Regions from separate parts of the Homo sapiens genome. Here region 2 is linked to region 1. A link means that fine-mapping ties the variant in region 1 to the expression of a gene that starts in the linked region. Tissue or cell type: fibroblasts. Region 1 holds a variant in brackets; the other region holds the start of a gene. All regions are shown on one strand. Distances are from middle to middle.

Region 1 (8,268 bases):
GAAAATCCCAGCTTGCCTTAGCTACCATTACCAAAAACCCAGCTCCTTCACCTGTTCCTAACTAACTTTTACTTTGTTCTCATCCTTCTTGGCTCTCGGGTCCTGTGTTGCAATGGGTGGAAACAGCCAAGTTTCATCTCAGGCTGTAGAACCCAACCCTGATCTTTTCTCTAAACAAGCAGGAACCCTAGGAGCTAGACAGAGGCTGGGATGCTGTATCTTAGAAACCGGAGATGCTGGGGCTCCAGGAATCTTGCAGAGGGATGTAGTGCATGGAGGTGAGGGAGGGATCCAAGGGAAAAATGGAAGTTAAATTCATGGGCAACATTCCAGAGATTCATCATCAAAGCAGAGGACCTAGGCAAGGAGACTCTAGGATCATGATCCAGGGAAAACAGCACAGAGAAGGGAAGGGTTTGTAGCAGAGTTCAGGTGGTGAAGCCTGGAGAAATTCTCTAAGGTGCAGATAATACCTGCAGCTGTGGCTTACTATAAGCCTATGACCTGAGGCTGGGTGAGGTCACCCTGTAGCCTCCCTGGACCTAGCTGTTTACCTGCAGAGCTCAAGGAATTTGTGTGGTTATCCTTTTGCCACCTCAGCTTCAAATAAAAGGTTTGGCAAAGGTTTGGCTTTGGGGAGCCTAAAGCAGGATTTTGGAGATTAGCCAAAGAGACTACAGAGATTCCTTTCTTTTTTTTTTTTTTTTTTTTTTTTTTTTTGAGATAGAGTCTTGCTCTGTCACCCAGGATAGAGTGCAGTGGCATGATCTTGGCTCACTACAACCTTCGGCTCCCGGGATCAAGTGATTCTCATGCCTCAGCCTCCTGAGTAGCTGAGATTATAGGCATGTGCCACCACACCCAGCCTTTTTTCTTTTTTTTTCTTTTTTTTCTTTTTTTTGAGACGGATCCTCGCTCTGTCGCTGAGGCTGGAGTGCAATGGCGTGATCTTGGCTCATTGCAACCTCTGCCTCCTGGGTTCAAGCAATTCTCCTGCCTCAGCCTCCCAAGTAGCTGAGACTACAAGTGTCTGCCACCATGCCTGACTAATTTTTTGGTATTTTTTAGTGGAGATGGGGGTTTCACCATGTTAGCCAGGCTGGTCTTGAACTCCTGACCTCAGGTGATCTGGCCACTTCGGCCTCCCAAAATGTTGGAATTAAGACATGAGCCACAGCACCCGGCCCCTATTTTTGTATTCTTAAAAGAGACCAGGTTTCCCCATGTTGGCCAGGCTAGTCTTGGCCAACTCCTGACCTCAAGTATCTGCCCACCTCAGCCTCCCAAAGTGCTGGGATTACAGTCATGAGACGCCATGCCTGGCTGGGATACTGAATTTTGAATCAGAAAATCCAGACTTTACAATAGTCAAAACCATATCTTATTTGTCTTTCTGCTCCATTACCCAGGATTTTACTTAGAACATCAGTAGACACCTGAAAACATTGGTCAAATAGAAGTGAATAAATGATTAAAGAACAAATTAACAAGTAAATGAAGCCCGACATAAATAAAGGCCCTGCTAATCCACCAGCTACACTCGTGTGACAAAGGCCCCAGAGATACCCATGCTCTATATCCATGGAATTGTGCCATGGGGCTGGCTTACTGGGGATTCTATTTACCTGTGGTCTTGACGGGCCTCCCTGGAGAAACAGTAACCTGACATCTGGAGAGTACATTTGGCTCTGTGAACTAGGTCAGATCTGCAGACTTGTGGTTTACCCACTTAGACCCATGCCACACACAGCAGGCCCCTGATGAGAGCCCTGGCATCCTTGCCTTGTGCTTCTTCACCATCCCCTCCCAGATCTCACCTGGCCTCTTTGGTCCCAACTGTGTGTGTGCCTCCTCTCCTCTCTCTAGCTTCTTGCTCTTCTCTATGCCCTTTGCCTGACCCTGCCTCTCTGGTTCTGACCTTGGCTCCCCTCCTGTTTTGCAGTGAGCATTTACCCTTCAGATCATATCTGCAGCTGCCACTCTGGGCAAACTCCCTCTCCCTCAAACTTGGCCTCCATGTCCATTGGCCATAGGCTGATTTTCCCACTGTGCTTGGTCAGGCTTCATGGGTGGAATTCAGACACCAGGACTGGGCATCCTGGTCAAAACCAGGGGCAAACGCTCTCACCTGCATTCTTGGGCGGGAGGCAGGGGTCCCAGGCGGCCAAGAAACTCACCCCATAACTGAACAGAGGTGGCATGCCCACACTCCGTCCCTGGACAAGGGAAGCTCAAATTCAAATAGTATACAACATTGTGCTTCTCACATAGTAAAACCAGTCTTTCAGAAATGTGTCCTGAATTCCTAAGGGGAGGAAGGGAGAAAGATCCTCCAGAAAATAAAAAAAAAAATTCCAATAAAACGAAGTTGGTCCACTGGCAATATAGTACAAAACAAAGATCTTGGTAAGAAAACATCTCCCTGATTTTGGGGTTCCCATGAAAATAACACAGGTCCCCATGAAAATAACGTAGATGAAGCAGCAGAGAACTGACAAAGGCTGTGGAAACATGGAAAGAGTAATGATAACGCAGAAATCAGAGGTGAAGTAAAAGCACAAGTGAACCTTCACAAAGCTGGGCTAAGTGATATTAACGTAGCTGCTATTAACCAGAAATTCCCAGTCAAGTCAACCAGGCTTGGCAGTGGTGGCCACCAGAGGGCGCTAGAGTAGAGTCCGTGGGAGAACTTCAGCGGTGGCCCTGCAGGTTTGAGAGGCACCTTCCCGGAGGATGGATTTGAAGGGCTGAGGGTCCAGCAGTTCTGTGGGTTGGCGGCTCACAGGAGAAAGCATGAAGACATACTTCCATCCTCACACCCCCGAAGGTCCTTGCCTGGACTGGAAGCTAAAGAAGCGCATGCTACATTGTTTTCCTAGTGACAAAAATCCCAGCTGGCCTCTGGTTAACTTTTCAAACAAATGGCACTGATGTGATATTGGGCGAACTCTAGGTGTCACTGACCTAATAAAAAGAAAAAAGCTATTTGCTTCCCATTTTCCGATGCAGTGAGGATTTCACAGTGATCTCAAACACAGTGAAATACATAAAAAGAGCCTAGCTTAATGGGGGCACCCAGCAAATGCCCAATAAACATCTGTTCCCTTTCCTCAATAAACCCCATTTGCCTCTCAGCCTGCAGCCTCCCACACTGGTGGACCCACGTGCCCCTCAGAAGTGAAGCTTTTGGCCCCTGTAAAGCAGCAGCCCCTCTGGCCAGAGAGTCTTTTGTCCCAGAGCCTTTGTTGTTCCAGATTTCTCACTGTGAGGCCTCAGCAGCTGCCAGGGGGCCACCCCAGGAGCTGGAATCAGAGCTCAGAAAGACAGCAGTCCTTCTTCTGCTCCTTTCTGGGCCCGCATGCCCCAGCCCCACACCCAGCCTCAACCACACTGCCCTGCACACCCTCACCGTGCCCCCACTTCTCCACAATGTGTTTCTAATCTGCCCAGGAACAGTCACCAGCTCACTTTTCCTGCCTGGTCTCATTAGCGTGGCCTCTGGGCCTGGGCCTGGGTGTGTAGCCCAGAGGCTTGCACGGAGGTGATCAGATTGCAGGGAACAGTATGTTTCCCTCCCTGCCTCTGCTTGTTTTCTTCAGGGGCCAGGGCCAGCCAGCTGAGCTGTCTTCCTCTTCCCCGGCTTCTCATCCTCCCTCACACATGGTCTGACTTCAGTGGGTGGGGGGATGAGCAGAGGGTGTGACACACACGAGTGTGCATGACTGGCATG[T/C]AGGGAGTGTGAGTTGTGGGCAGGTTTCTTAAGGGGAGGCAAGGCTGCTACTACTCCGGGAAACAGGCCTGGGAGCCAGGGGGAGTGGAGGAGGAAGGCCAAGCTGGGGATTTGTACAGACCAGTTCTGGCCAGATCTCTTAAAATGTTTTGTTCTTGCATTGCTGCTGCTGCTGCTGTTGGTTTTTTTCCCCCCTTCCCTGTGCTGAGCTGTCATTTCTTAGTCCAGCCAGGCCCTTATGAACTTCTGGTTCCTCTAAACGGTAAACACCCTGGTTTTCCAGACTACACCATAGCTCTCTTTTCTTATTTGCCTTCAAAATACACTTTAAAAAAAAAAAAAAGAAAGTAGAAAATGGCAATATCAGTGATAAGGGCAGGGCATGCACTGAAAAAGAACAGTTCAATCTAACATTTATCGAGCCTGCCACCTTCCTCAGCTTTATTCTCTCCTTTCTTGTTCTTGGTAACAGCAGATAAGAAATCAGCTGTGGGTCAATACGTGAAAAATGTTCACTCTTTTAGAGTAGTATTAAAATAAATATTTTCAATGACAACATTAAGCAGTTAATAATTAAAGCATGTGCATATGTATACTTAAAAGGGGCTGGAGTCCCTTCTGTCCAAATCAAATTTTCCACAAGCGTTGGTAACAAGGTGGCTGGGAATGTTGAGATGTGAGACTGGCCTTCCAAGGATCAGGAGGGCAGCTGGTGGTGGGTCTGCTCTCTCTCATCACTCTCAGTGGCGACATCACCGTCCATCCTCCCCAGTACTAAGATCTGCTTCAGGAAAGAGCCTGAAACCAGCCACATGTATCTCATGTTGGTGAAGGAAAATCACAGTAGTGGTCCTCAGTGGGACTCTAAAATGACTTCACATCAGCCTCATTTGGTAAATGAGGAAACTGAGGCTCCAAGAGGTGATGTGTGTCACCCAAGTTTCCATAGCAGAGCTAGAAAAAGACCTTGTTCCTGGGGTCCTGGGAGAGGGTCCTACTGCCCAGCTCTGACGGATGAAAGGAAGGCTTTTTTCCATGGTACCAGCTGTTGCTATGGGCAACCCTAGAGATCACTCTGTGGGGTGTGGGATCCTTCGGGAGAGCTTGTGCTTCCATTTGGAGAGACTTCACAAAGAGGGTGTGCCATGGGGACTAACATAAAAAATCAAGAGTGGGGAGACAGAAAGAGGAAGGTCAGCAGAACTGTCCAGATTTCTACAATGCCCGCCCTTCTTAGGCAAGCTAAGCCATCTACGTGTTGGGGGCATGGTTGCTGGCCCTCCGGAAACCCCTCGGATCTGAAGAGCAGACAAGAGCATCTGTCATCTCACAGAGATGCCTTGGGATTTGAATACTTGTTTTGTCTTTGGCCTGGAGTTTTACTCTTAGAGCTCCTTGCCCAGATATTCCATGGTAACCCACTGTCATATTCTGCATAGTCCTCTGAGATAAATATGGAGAAATTATGGAATGCAGGGGAAAGAATTCTGAACTTCAAATGAGAAGAGCTGGGTTTGTGTCTGGCTTCACTCCTTACTTGTGTCTAATCAAAAGCAAATCAAAATTGAAAGTAAGAGCTAAATTTTTGTTAAGGTAGGATTTTAAGGCAATTGTTAAGTCAAAGATGTATCTTAAGCACCACATTCAAAACCACGTATTCTCGTACATCACTCTTACTGTATTTTCTAGACTCTAAGAAGCCATTGACTAAGACACAGCAGCGAGTTAATAACAGCTTTTAGGGGGAAAGGAGAAGAAAAATGTTTCTCTGTTAAACATACACATCAATTGTAAGACACAGGATCTCTGAAATGTCAGGTGTGAAGATCAAGCTTCTTGGAATGAAAGAAACAGTGGTATTGTTAACATTTTGAAGGAAGACTGGCTCAGGGAAGGGCAAAAGACATTTTTGAACACACGGCTACTTATCGGGTTAGTAGAATGTTCCCCAAATTCTCCTTTGTAATACCTACATCCTCTTTGGCTGTTCCCCTCCTGGTCCTCAGTCTTTTGTTTACCTGTCATTGAAACTTTCCACCAGTTTGGCCAATGGCCATTGTGTCAACTGCAGCTCAGACTTGTCCAGGCAAACACCGGCTCACTGACCAGGTGCTCACCAAGCCTCAGGGTACACATACCAGCCCCGCGGTACCATACCCTCAGGGTACACAACCACACCCACAGACACCTGGTAATACTGCTTCATACTACATTAATTTTCCTGTAAGCAAACTTTCTGACTTAAATCATTTTGTTTCAGAAGTAAAAGTGATAATTTCACTTTACATGCAAAACCTATATCACTTCTGTAGATACAAAGTAAGCATAAAAATAGTAAAATGGGCCAAGCACAATGGCTCACACCTGTAATCCCAGCACTTTGGGAGGTCGAGGCAGGCAGATCACTTGAGGTCAGGAGTTCGAGACCAGCCTGGCCAACATGGTGAAACCCCGTCTCTACTAAAAATACAAAAATTAGACGAGCATGGTGGCGCATGCCTGTAATCCTAGCAACTCAGGAGGCTGAGGCAGGAGAATCACTTGAACCCAGGAGGCAGTGGTTGCAGTGAGCTGGGATCATGCCACTGCACTCCAGCCTAGGTGACAGAGCCAGACCCTGTCTCAAAAAAAAAAAAAAAAGTAAAATGGAAACATAGAAACTTAAAAAAAAAAAAACTATGTTGATTCTAATACCTTGTGTGTAGAATAAATCCAATCAATTTATGAAAATAATTTCCTCACTGAGAAAAATGAAACTGTAATCTTTCCATAAGAAAGGAATATTCAACCCCACGTACTAAGTTTAAGAGAACAGCGAGGAGCTATGTCTGTTAGGGCCAGTTACACGTAGGAGCCACAGTACCAGCTGCCTGCAGAGTAGCTGTGTGACCACAGGTCAGTTTCTCAACATCTGTGCGCCTTAGTTCCTTGTTTGTCAAACAGAAATGAAAATAACACCAATTTGGGGGTTATTTCTGATGACTAAATGAGTTAATGCATGCAAAGCACTTATGACAGTGCCTGGTATTTAGTAAGGTCTCAATACATGTTAGCTATAATGATAATCAGTAGTCAGGGTATTACAATTAGTAGTATTCATGACTTAAAATTCCTACTCACTGGAGTTGGAGTCAGAAAGATTTTTAAGACATTAACTGTTTTCTCTCATAAGACTGGTTACTCAGGGTTAGTTTCTAACCAAAATGATGAAAGTAGCTGTTGCCCAACAACTGCTCCTTAAAGAAGCCATCTCCAGGATGGAGTGTCAGAATATGTCCAGTTAAATCTGGTCATGTTTGGAAAGTGATGGAAAGTGGGTTCCTAATCTACTCCCTGCCACATTCCAGTTTAGAAAAATACTTATATATTTTTTTCATTTTCCAAGGATCACTATGTTCAAAACAATTTTGAACTAGTTATTCAGACGACTTCATTACCATGTGCTTCAGATAATGACAATAGTTTTTGATAAAATTTGAGTCTGGTTGAACGCTTGCTTGACTAGAAGACACATGTGTGGGTCCTTGGTGTACTGTCTGGGCCAGTGACCCCTTGCTGAGCATGAACTATATGCTATGCAGGGTTAAATTATTTAATTCTCATAGTAACCCAATGATTTAGGTACTCTTTCCCCTTTTTACGGCTGAGGAAAACCGAGGCACAGAGTGGTCAAGTGACTTAAGATTACAGTGTTAATCATGGGTTTGAGACAGAATTCAGAGGCCTTCCTCGGTGCCAGAACCCTGTTCTCCAAACTCCTCGGCCTCGTGGGAGTGACAGTGTAATCTGAGGCCACAGCCCTGCCTTAGCTTTTCCCATGGGCCCTGGCCTCAGAGAAAGGCACCAGGGTGGGATGTTCTGCCCCTATAGATTTCTGCTGGCCCAGCCCTACCTGGAAACCCAGATGATGAGCAAAGAAGCCCCTTGCATGGGTGTGAGTAACAGCATGTGGGGGGTCTCCAATGGCCCCAGGCAAGAGGAGGACACCGTGGTTCCCTACCCGATTCCCATCCTTCCTTCCTCCTACTTCCTTCTCCTATTACTGTTAAACCCTACCCCTCAGTGGCAGGCACCAACTTTCCTACCTCCTTTCCTCTACCAGCAAACTTATCAGGTTAGGCCGGTAGACTATGTTTGATAAAAACTGAATTGGCACATAGTAGGTCTCTAAGGTGTATGTGAGCAAATGATAAATATAATTGGAATTTTCTTTGACTGTATACTCCTTCCTTATGGGCAAGAACTCTGATTTCTCTGTTTCATTAGAGCTTATTATAGTGCCCAGCACATACTAGATGCTCAAGGAGTATCAGTTACTGAATGTCTGGTGCAAAGGAGCTGGGAAAAAATCTAAAGGAGAAGGGATGAGTTTGGGTTTTATTTTTAGTGCCAATGTTCAAAAATATTTTTTAAAAATGTTCTACCAAACCCAAAATATTTCATTGAACACCTGGGACATCTCAGCTCTGGGAAGATCTTCCTATTACATCTCACTGCCTCCCTATTCCTGCTTCACTCTGGAAGTCCTCAGGTTATTA
Region 2 (8,000 bases), 250 kb after region 1:
ATAACACCAGCTTGTTAGGGTCCTTACGGAAGGGGTCCCGAAACATGGCAGCAGGCACGAGATACATGTCACTGTTGGAACCCTCAGACTGTAAAGTACTAGAGCCATCGAAATTCCACTCAGGCAACTCTGGGGCAAAAAGAGGGAAAATTACATTTAAAACATACAGGAGCTTTCCAAGCAATGCAAATACAGCCAGCCCTTCACTCACCTTCCCATCTCTAAATATCTCTTTTCCAGGAATTCATTAAGGTATAAATGCCATCATTAATATGTATACCCTGGCACCTGTACCTGATCTTATAGCCCTTCCTATTTGAGTTCCAAGTAAGACCATTGTACCAATTCCTTAAAAGAAATATATCAGATACTCCCTTCCCAAATGTCTTCCAGGAGACAAGCTGAAGCATTCTGTTATCACTACCATCCTATCAATCACTTAAAATATTGAGATAGTGAAGGATTCTGATTCTTCCATTAGGTAATGTGTTGCATCCTTCTTATGCCCCCAGTGTATTCTGGCAAGTTATGTCCTTATTTTATAGATGAGGGAACAGACGACTAGCAGGATGACTTACTCTAGGATGCTCCCTTATCACCTATCCACCTTTCCCACTGTTTTGAAGGCTGCTTGGTCTCTCTAGCTGACTGAGTTCTCTGAAGGCAGAGACGAGACTCTCACTTTGTATCTTCAGTGTCTGTGCACTATCATCTGCCACATAGCAAGTACACAATATAGGCTTTGTATTATGATCATTCACTTACTCAAAAAGGAAAAGTAAACTACCCTAAACTAGGTAGGATATGATACTTTCCTCTGGCCCCTTTCCAGAAGAGGGAAGACTATGGCTTGTTCTAGACTGAAAAATGAAGGTCACAACTATAATCTAACTGTAGCTCCTAGAGGGATACGCAATTAGTTTAAGAATTTCCAAAAGTGGCATCAACTAAAAATTAGTCCTATTTAAAAACCATTGTAGAGCATTTGCTTCACATCTAGAAGCCAGTGATATGAGTATTAAACACAGTTTTCTAAGAGTTTGTAAACTAGATGGCATTCTCAGGTTAGAGCAGTGGTTTTCTGAGGGTGCCTTAGAGCCAGCTAAGTGGGGATGTCCAGGTCGGCAACCTCTAAGCCCCATGCCAACTCTCCATAAACCAGACTTAGTTTTTCTTCAATACACTGGCCTACGTGCACAATTCCATTGAAATAAAGGGTTCCATCGTCGCTCTGCTTTGAGGCAGTGTAGGAGCTTAATGTTGACTGAATAAAGTCTGAAAAGCCCTGCCTTAGAAAACCTTTACAAACAGAAGAAAGAGGCCTAATCCAGAGGCTGAGTCAAAGGCTGCTGCCCACCCCTCTGCAGATCCCACCCAGCATGTGCTCCACTCCACATTGCTGTCTCACCTTCCACACACTTGGGCTCACTGTCCAGGGTCCGGGTCTTGCAGCGCAGTCCTTCTCCAGTACCATCGATCCAGATATACATGGCCTGGACTTTCTCACCCTGAGGCAGGGACATGTACACCTGCTTGATGCCTTTATTTAAGTGGGAACTTGCTGAGGTGGTCATGGTGGAAGGTGTTCTGGAGAAGAAAAAAAGAATAACATTGTTAACGCCCACTCCAAACTGATCCCCTGCAAAAATGGCTCAAGAAGGACGACTGAATCAAAAGTCAGAGTGTAAGTGCCAACTCCTTCCCTTGTGGAAGTCAACACACAAAAAGTTATGTTTACTCACTCTTTCAGGGGGATTAGTTTTATAGTAGGCAAAAATCTCCTTTATAATAGGCTGTAAAACTGATCACCACCTTTTGAAACAATTAACACAGATGCCTGCTAAAGAAAAGATCAGGCCCTTGGTAGTAACTCAATGCCTCTGCATCCCTGAGCTCACAGGCTTAAGTTCCACAGCTACTGCAGAACCCAGGCTTCCAAGCTAGAACTTATACTTGTGAGGACTAAGGTCTATTCCTTCAGTGTAGCTGAGGTTAACACTAAACTATCCAAATACTAAACTATCAGAGGAAACAAATCAAAACCAATACACAAATTTACAAAACATAGAACTTCTTCCAATATAAGTAAAATCCAGCCACAGAACAGGCTTGGCTTCCACAGTTTGTTTTTCTCTTTGTCTTTCATCCTAGCTGTGGTCTTAACTCAAACCCACCGCCCCTCCCCACCAAAAGAAAACTCATTACACATTTAGATTTGAGGATGAAACAAGGTTACAATATATTTTTTTAGAAGGCTAGCAGTTTCCTACACAAAAGCTGATTCAAGCCAGATTCTAAGGGGAATGCTGCCATAATTTCCATAGGTCTCATGCAAAGTCTCACTTAAGATAGTGGGCAAGAATCACAACATTATGGAATTCTACAAGACTTGTCAAGTAATTAGGAAATTTCCACTTCTAAATCAAAAAGATCTGGAAATTTAAAAGCCATGAGGCATACTAATAACTGCCAGCCACTACCACAAAACCTCCGAAAGAAGAGAAACTCTCAAGCCACAACAGCCGAAGAGGAAACATTCTCTCTCTCCCTCCTCCCTCCGTGGACCAGGGTGGCTAGAAAGGGAACACATTGTTCTCCTCCAACGACTAGGGCAACGTTCTGAAGTACAGTGGCAAAGTTTCTACGGGCAACCGTCCATGTTTGCCCAGCTGAAAACATAACTGCTTCTCCCTCAGCCTCACCACCCTTCCCCTTGGGGAAGACCAACACCCCAATATTGCCTCTAGAAGACTCAGCCGGCCAAATCCTACTTCCCACCTCCATCCCAGAACCCTTTAGCTCCCGCTAAAAGCTACAACCCACCGAAGCGGGCAGATCACCTGAGGTACAAAGTTCGAGACCAGCCTGGCCAACACGATGAAACTCCCGTCTCTACTAAAAATACAAAAATTAGCCGGGCGTGGTTGTGCACGCCTGTAATCCCAGCTACTCGGGAGGCTGACACAGGAGAATCGCCTGAACCCCAGAGGCAGAGGTTGCAGTGAGCCGGGAGATTGCACCACTGCACTCCAACCTGGGTAACAGATAGAGACTCTGTCGGAAAACAAAAAAAAAAAACCTACAACCCAATTTCTCGGCTGTCCTCTCCAACATGTTACACCACCAATATCATGCACACTTTGTCCTAAGCCTCAGTTTCGGATCTCTTGCTCTTTTCCGTGAGCCGAGTTGCATGCCAGCAGCCTAGTGCCACTCTATCAACTGCTGCTGCTGCGGTGCCAAGTTTACGTGGGGGAAATGGATTCTGAAGTTTTCAGCAGTTTCTGCAGCTCCCACCAACTCCGGGGTCGTCCTCCCTGCCCCCTCACTCACCCCAGCCACAGAAAGTCAAGCGTATCGTTAGGGTTGCCCTCTTTAACCCTTCTCTTTTTGGAGTGGCGTTCGCGCCTCTCCTCTTTCTCAGACTCTAGCTGGTCCAAGCACCGGAGCTTTCTGGGAGAGGGCGATGGAGAAGGGGACAGACAGCGGCCGGCCCGGGGGGTGTCCGAACAGGCAGGTTGGTGGGTTAAGGTCTTAATCTTGACTCGAGATCTCTCCCCGGAGTTCACAGAGTAGGCGACGAAGCCGAAGCAGCTGGAGCGCGACCCGGAGGAGTCTGACTTCTCGTTGTCTTCATAATTTTCATTCGTTGCTTTCTTCGTGGACTTGCGGCTGGGGGAGGATCCCCGCTTCCCGCCCCCGAGGGAGTTATAATTATCCACTTTGAGAGCAGCCCCTTCCCACTGAAATGTCCCTAAAGTGGGCGCCCTGCCCCTCGGGCCCCCGTCCGAATCTCAGGGCCTCACGGAGGTGGCCATACCCTGCCGCCGAGGGGTTGGGGGGTCCGGGGGAGGGTGGGGGCGCAGGCCGTAGGGACTGCGCGCTGCTGCTGCCTCCGCCCGGACCGGCTTCTCCACTGACTGCGCCGAGGCCCGGGCTCTCCATTGTTCGGTCACATTGGAAGGCCCCCGGGACCCCGAGGCGGGAGCCGGCCGCCCAAACAACGCTCACCGTTACACGCCGCAATCGAGGCGTCTCAACCATCGCCAGAACCAGGACGATTGCTCCGAAGGCCCCACCACGAGGAAGGCAGCCAGGCGCCCGCGCCAACCAAGCGCCTTGTTTGCGCTCCACAGGGGACCGCACCGCCACTCCATCCACAGCGCAAACAAACCACTGCGAGCCCCAGGGCGCAGGCCGGCCCAACGGCCTCCAGGGGCGGCGCTTCGGCCGCAAGTAGTGAAAAGAAGATCAAAACAACTCACCCCGCCCTTCCCAGAGCCTGGCCAAGGGCGCGCCCCACCAGCGCCAGCCCCGACGGGTCCAAGCCACCAGCGGCGGAAGCACGCGGGAGGAGCACTCATGCCGGATCTCAGGCATGGGCCGGAGAGGCCGCAGCGTAGGGCTGGGACTGGAGGGGCAGGCAGCCGAAAAAAGAGGCTGGGCGGCGCGCCTCGCGGGGTAGCAGGGGCGGCGCGCCTCGCTTGCGTGACACCGGGCCGTCCGGGGGCTTACCTGGTCGCCGAGCAGGCGGGCGGGTAAAGCTAGGCCGCGAGAGCGAGGTTAGGAGAGGAGAGGAGGCCGCAGTACTGCTCACACGCTCCGCTCTTCTCCCACTCTCGACTCTGCAGAGCCGCCAGCAGCCCCGCACCCTTTATCCGCGGCCCGGGGCCGCCCCCGGTGCCCTGATTGGCTCCCAGCGGCCAGGAGCCCGGGCCGATCAGCTGATGCGGTCCCGGGCCCCGCGGCCATTGGGCGAGGAGCCCGGCGGGCGCCGCTGGGGTGGGGGCAAGCGAACTGGGAAAGAAAGAAAGAAAGAGAAAGGGGCGTGGGGGAGGGGCAGGGCGGCGTGGGGGAAGGGAGCGGAGCCGGGAGGGCTGAGGGCAGAGGGGCGAGTTGCCGCCAGGCCGGGAAGCCTCGGCTCGCCGCCCACCCGCCAGCTCGCCAGGTGCCGCCCCACGGCCCCCAACCCGGGGTCCCGAGGCTCCCAGCAAAGCCCGCCCTGGACCTCTGCCCTGCCGCCTTCACGGGGAATAGTTTTACGAGGAGAGCTCCCTGGGGAAATGCGGAACCAGGGAAACCGAATTTAGCCTTTTGTTGCGAGGGAGCCTCCGAGCCCCGCTTCCTGCGGGCAGGGGTTAGCTTGAGAGGGAGCGCGGGGCGCGGGACCCGAGGGAACTTTGGGCGGGCCTGGGCTAGGGCGGGTGCCGCGCGGGCCTGGGGACAGGCCGGGGTTCCCAAGGCCTGGAAGAGCCGCCCGCTCCGGCTCTCTTGGGTCTGGGGAAATAAACAGAACTCTGCCATTTCACATTTGAAATCAACGTGCTGTTTCTCTAATTTTACAGAGAGGATTCTGGAGGGCGGTAGAAACTAAGTCTGGAGACCTGTCTCATACTGCTGGCCAGACCCTAGGCAGGTCTTTCAGGGCCCAAGTTTCCTCATCTGCAAAATAAAGTGGTCATCGAAAATGACCTGTGGAGCCGCCCACTAGATTTGAAATTCTGTGTGCAAACTGCCCCCGGAGCAGCTGAAAGGAAATCGAGGTGTTCACTTGCCCCCTTTGAAGTCCAGGGATTGTCAAGAAATTCCTTTAACGAATTCTCCCTGATTTTGCTTTATCAAGTGCGGCTTCTTGTTAATCTGGAAAATGGGAATACATACCTCTCCTCTCAGCTTGCCGTGATGGTTGGGAAAATGTGTATGTGAACACAATATTGAAATGTACCTAGAGACACAACATAGGTAGGTAGGTAGGTAGGTAGGTAGATACTGCTATCCGTACTATTACTCGATCATTCTATTTTTAGTGCCTGAAATCTACCTGATGGTGTCCAGATTTTATTGCTTCTTTCAGTTTAAAGAGCAAGAATTTATGCTTCCAGTGCCTTTGGAAGAGGAAGGGAAGAAGTTTGTTCTGGTTATGTTTTGTACCGCAAATGTGGAAAAGAAATGTTGCCTGCAACCACACACACATAACTTGGCTTCTTTGGTCAACATCCCTTTCCTTTAAGAGTGTATAACACTGTAGTGCTTTTACATGACAGATGCAGCATTCATCTCAAACAGGGTTTTTTGGGATGTTTCAGACTGGTGACATTTTGGATTGGGTAAGGTGCCTTACAAATTCCTTGTTAAATTTCAGTGCTGCCCCTTGAAGCATTACATTGTGGTGGCTAAAGGCACGGCTGCAAGTCAGGTAAACCTAGGTTCAAATCTGGGCTTTCCCTTCATACCAGCTTTGTGTTGGCCAAATCACTTAGCCACATGAAGCCTGTTTCTTTGTCTATAATAAAAGAGGGATAATCATTTTTACCTCATAAAAGGATTAATTGTGATAGCACATGCAGAAGAGATTGAGTAGTCCTTGGTGCATCGTAAATGTTTAGAAAACAGCAATTATAATTATCATAGGCCAAGTTCTATAATCTGAGGTGATTGGATTCTTTCTTTCCCCATAGCGACTTTTGAATACAACTTTTCTGACTCAGTGTAATGCTTTACCATTCATTATATCAAACTGGACTTAACCTTGGTAACACAGTGAGCTGTCTTCATCTCTTTCTGTAAAGGTTTGAGTTTAAATGGTCGAGGAAGGGGAGCAAAGGAGGAGAAAAGTGATATTTTTATTTTAAAAGATGTTATTAATCATTTCCAGATACCAAACTACCGAACCATAAGCCAGAGCCTCTGCTGCACACACCACCAGCCCCTGAGGTGGGGATGACAAACATAACAGAGAACGGAATGGTAAGGCGTGAGTGCGGTTCTGCAGGCTTATGGTATTTCTGCCATTTGAGTGCCTGCTTCCCTTCCTAGATGTCTTGACCTCATTGAGCAGTTTATTCATTGTCATATCCCCCAGTAGTGTCCACGGTGAGTGTTCAATAAATGATATTTGTTAACCACACAGAAGTGACAGCAGCACCATCAAGAGAACATGTGCTTTGAGCTGCTTTTCCAAGAATGGAAATGGATTTGCTTTGATCCATTCATGTGACCAGGGGCACGCTTTGTAAGGGTTAGGAACATAATACATGACCACTGACTCTTTCAGGAGTGAACAAGAGGCCTTGTCCTCCTTGGCCAGCCCCACATTTACTTAAAATGATGAAATTAGGGCGCAGATGAGTCCAAGAACTGACCAGGGAGGCTTGAGCATAGGCGAGAAGTAAAAGCAGAAGAAAACCCTTAACTGGTTCACCCGCAGAAACCCAGACTGTACTTTTAGAGAAGTTAAAAGTAAAACAGCCTGTTTCATCCAGTTTGACTTTGCTGTGTCTGCTGCCCTTTCTTCTCCTTCCCCTTCTTCCCTAAATTGCCACCCGCCCCCATTCTTCACCCCCACCATAAAAAGAGCATTAGAATGCTTGAACCCATGAACTTTTCTGTTTCTTGGTACACACCATATCAGTGCTGACAAGGGGTTCCATTGCATGTGCTTTGAAGTCATATTTTTCTCTCTTAGAGTAGAATTGCCATGTCCAAGGGGTGGGTGGAGTGGGAGAGCAATTACAGGGAAAGATTTTGTTCCAAATCTGCAGAAATAGCCTGAGATTAAAAGTATTTCTTCAATGTTGTTCTGCTGCCTGAAATAAAAGCTTTGTATTAGGATTTTGCTCTACTCCCAAATCTTATCTCTATTAGGAAACAACTTTTCTCTTTTTTTTTTTTTTTTTTTTTTTTTTTTTTGAGACGGAGTCTTACTCTGTTGCTCAGGCTGGATGCAGTGGCGCAATCTCGGCTCACTGCAACCTCCACTCACTGTAACCTCTGCCTCCCGGGTTCAAGCAATTCTCCTGCCTCAGCCTCCCAAGGAGCTGGGATTACAGGCGTGTGCCACCACACCCAGCTAATTTTTTGGTATTTTTAGTAGAGACGAGGTTTCACCATATTGGCCAGACTTGTCTTGAACTCCTGACCTTGTGATCCGCCTGCCTCGGCCTCCCAAAGTGCTGCGATTACAGGCGTGAGCCACTGTGCCCGGCCCTTTCTCTGTCTTT

Evidence for each region. PIP is the estimated chance that this variant, and not a neighbour inherited with it, causes the effect.
Region 2: GLUL starts here. The variant in region 1 is fine-mapped to the expression of GLUL in fibroblasts (GTEx, PIP above 0.99). The same link has a PIP of 0.9 or more in whole blood.

The regions. Positions count from the first base shown.
Region 1 is chr1:182,140,692-182,148,959 of GRCh38, forward strand. No RefSeq gene overlaps it. Among named protein-coding and RNA genes, the nearest start is that of ZNF648, 83 kb to the left of the region's middle. RefSeq lists a silencer at 2,683-2,859 and enhancers at 2,868-3,536, 3,537-4,204. The variant T/C (reference allele first, on the strand shown) is at 3,731.
Region 2 is chr1:182,387,164-182,395,163 of GRCh38, forward strand. GLUL (glutamate-ammonia ligase) reads right to left here and starts at 4,627. Exons shown (of 7, transcript NM_001033044.4): 1 at 4,516-4,627; 2 at 1,409-1,587; 3 at 1-129. The coding sequence starts at 1,574. RefSeq lists a silencer at 4,363-5,042.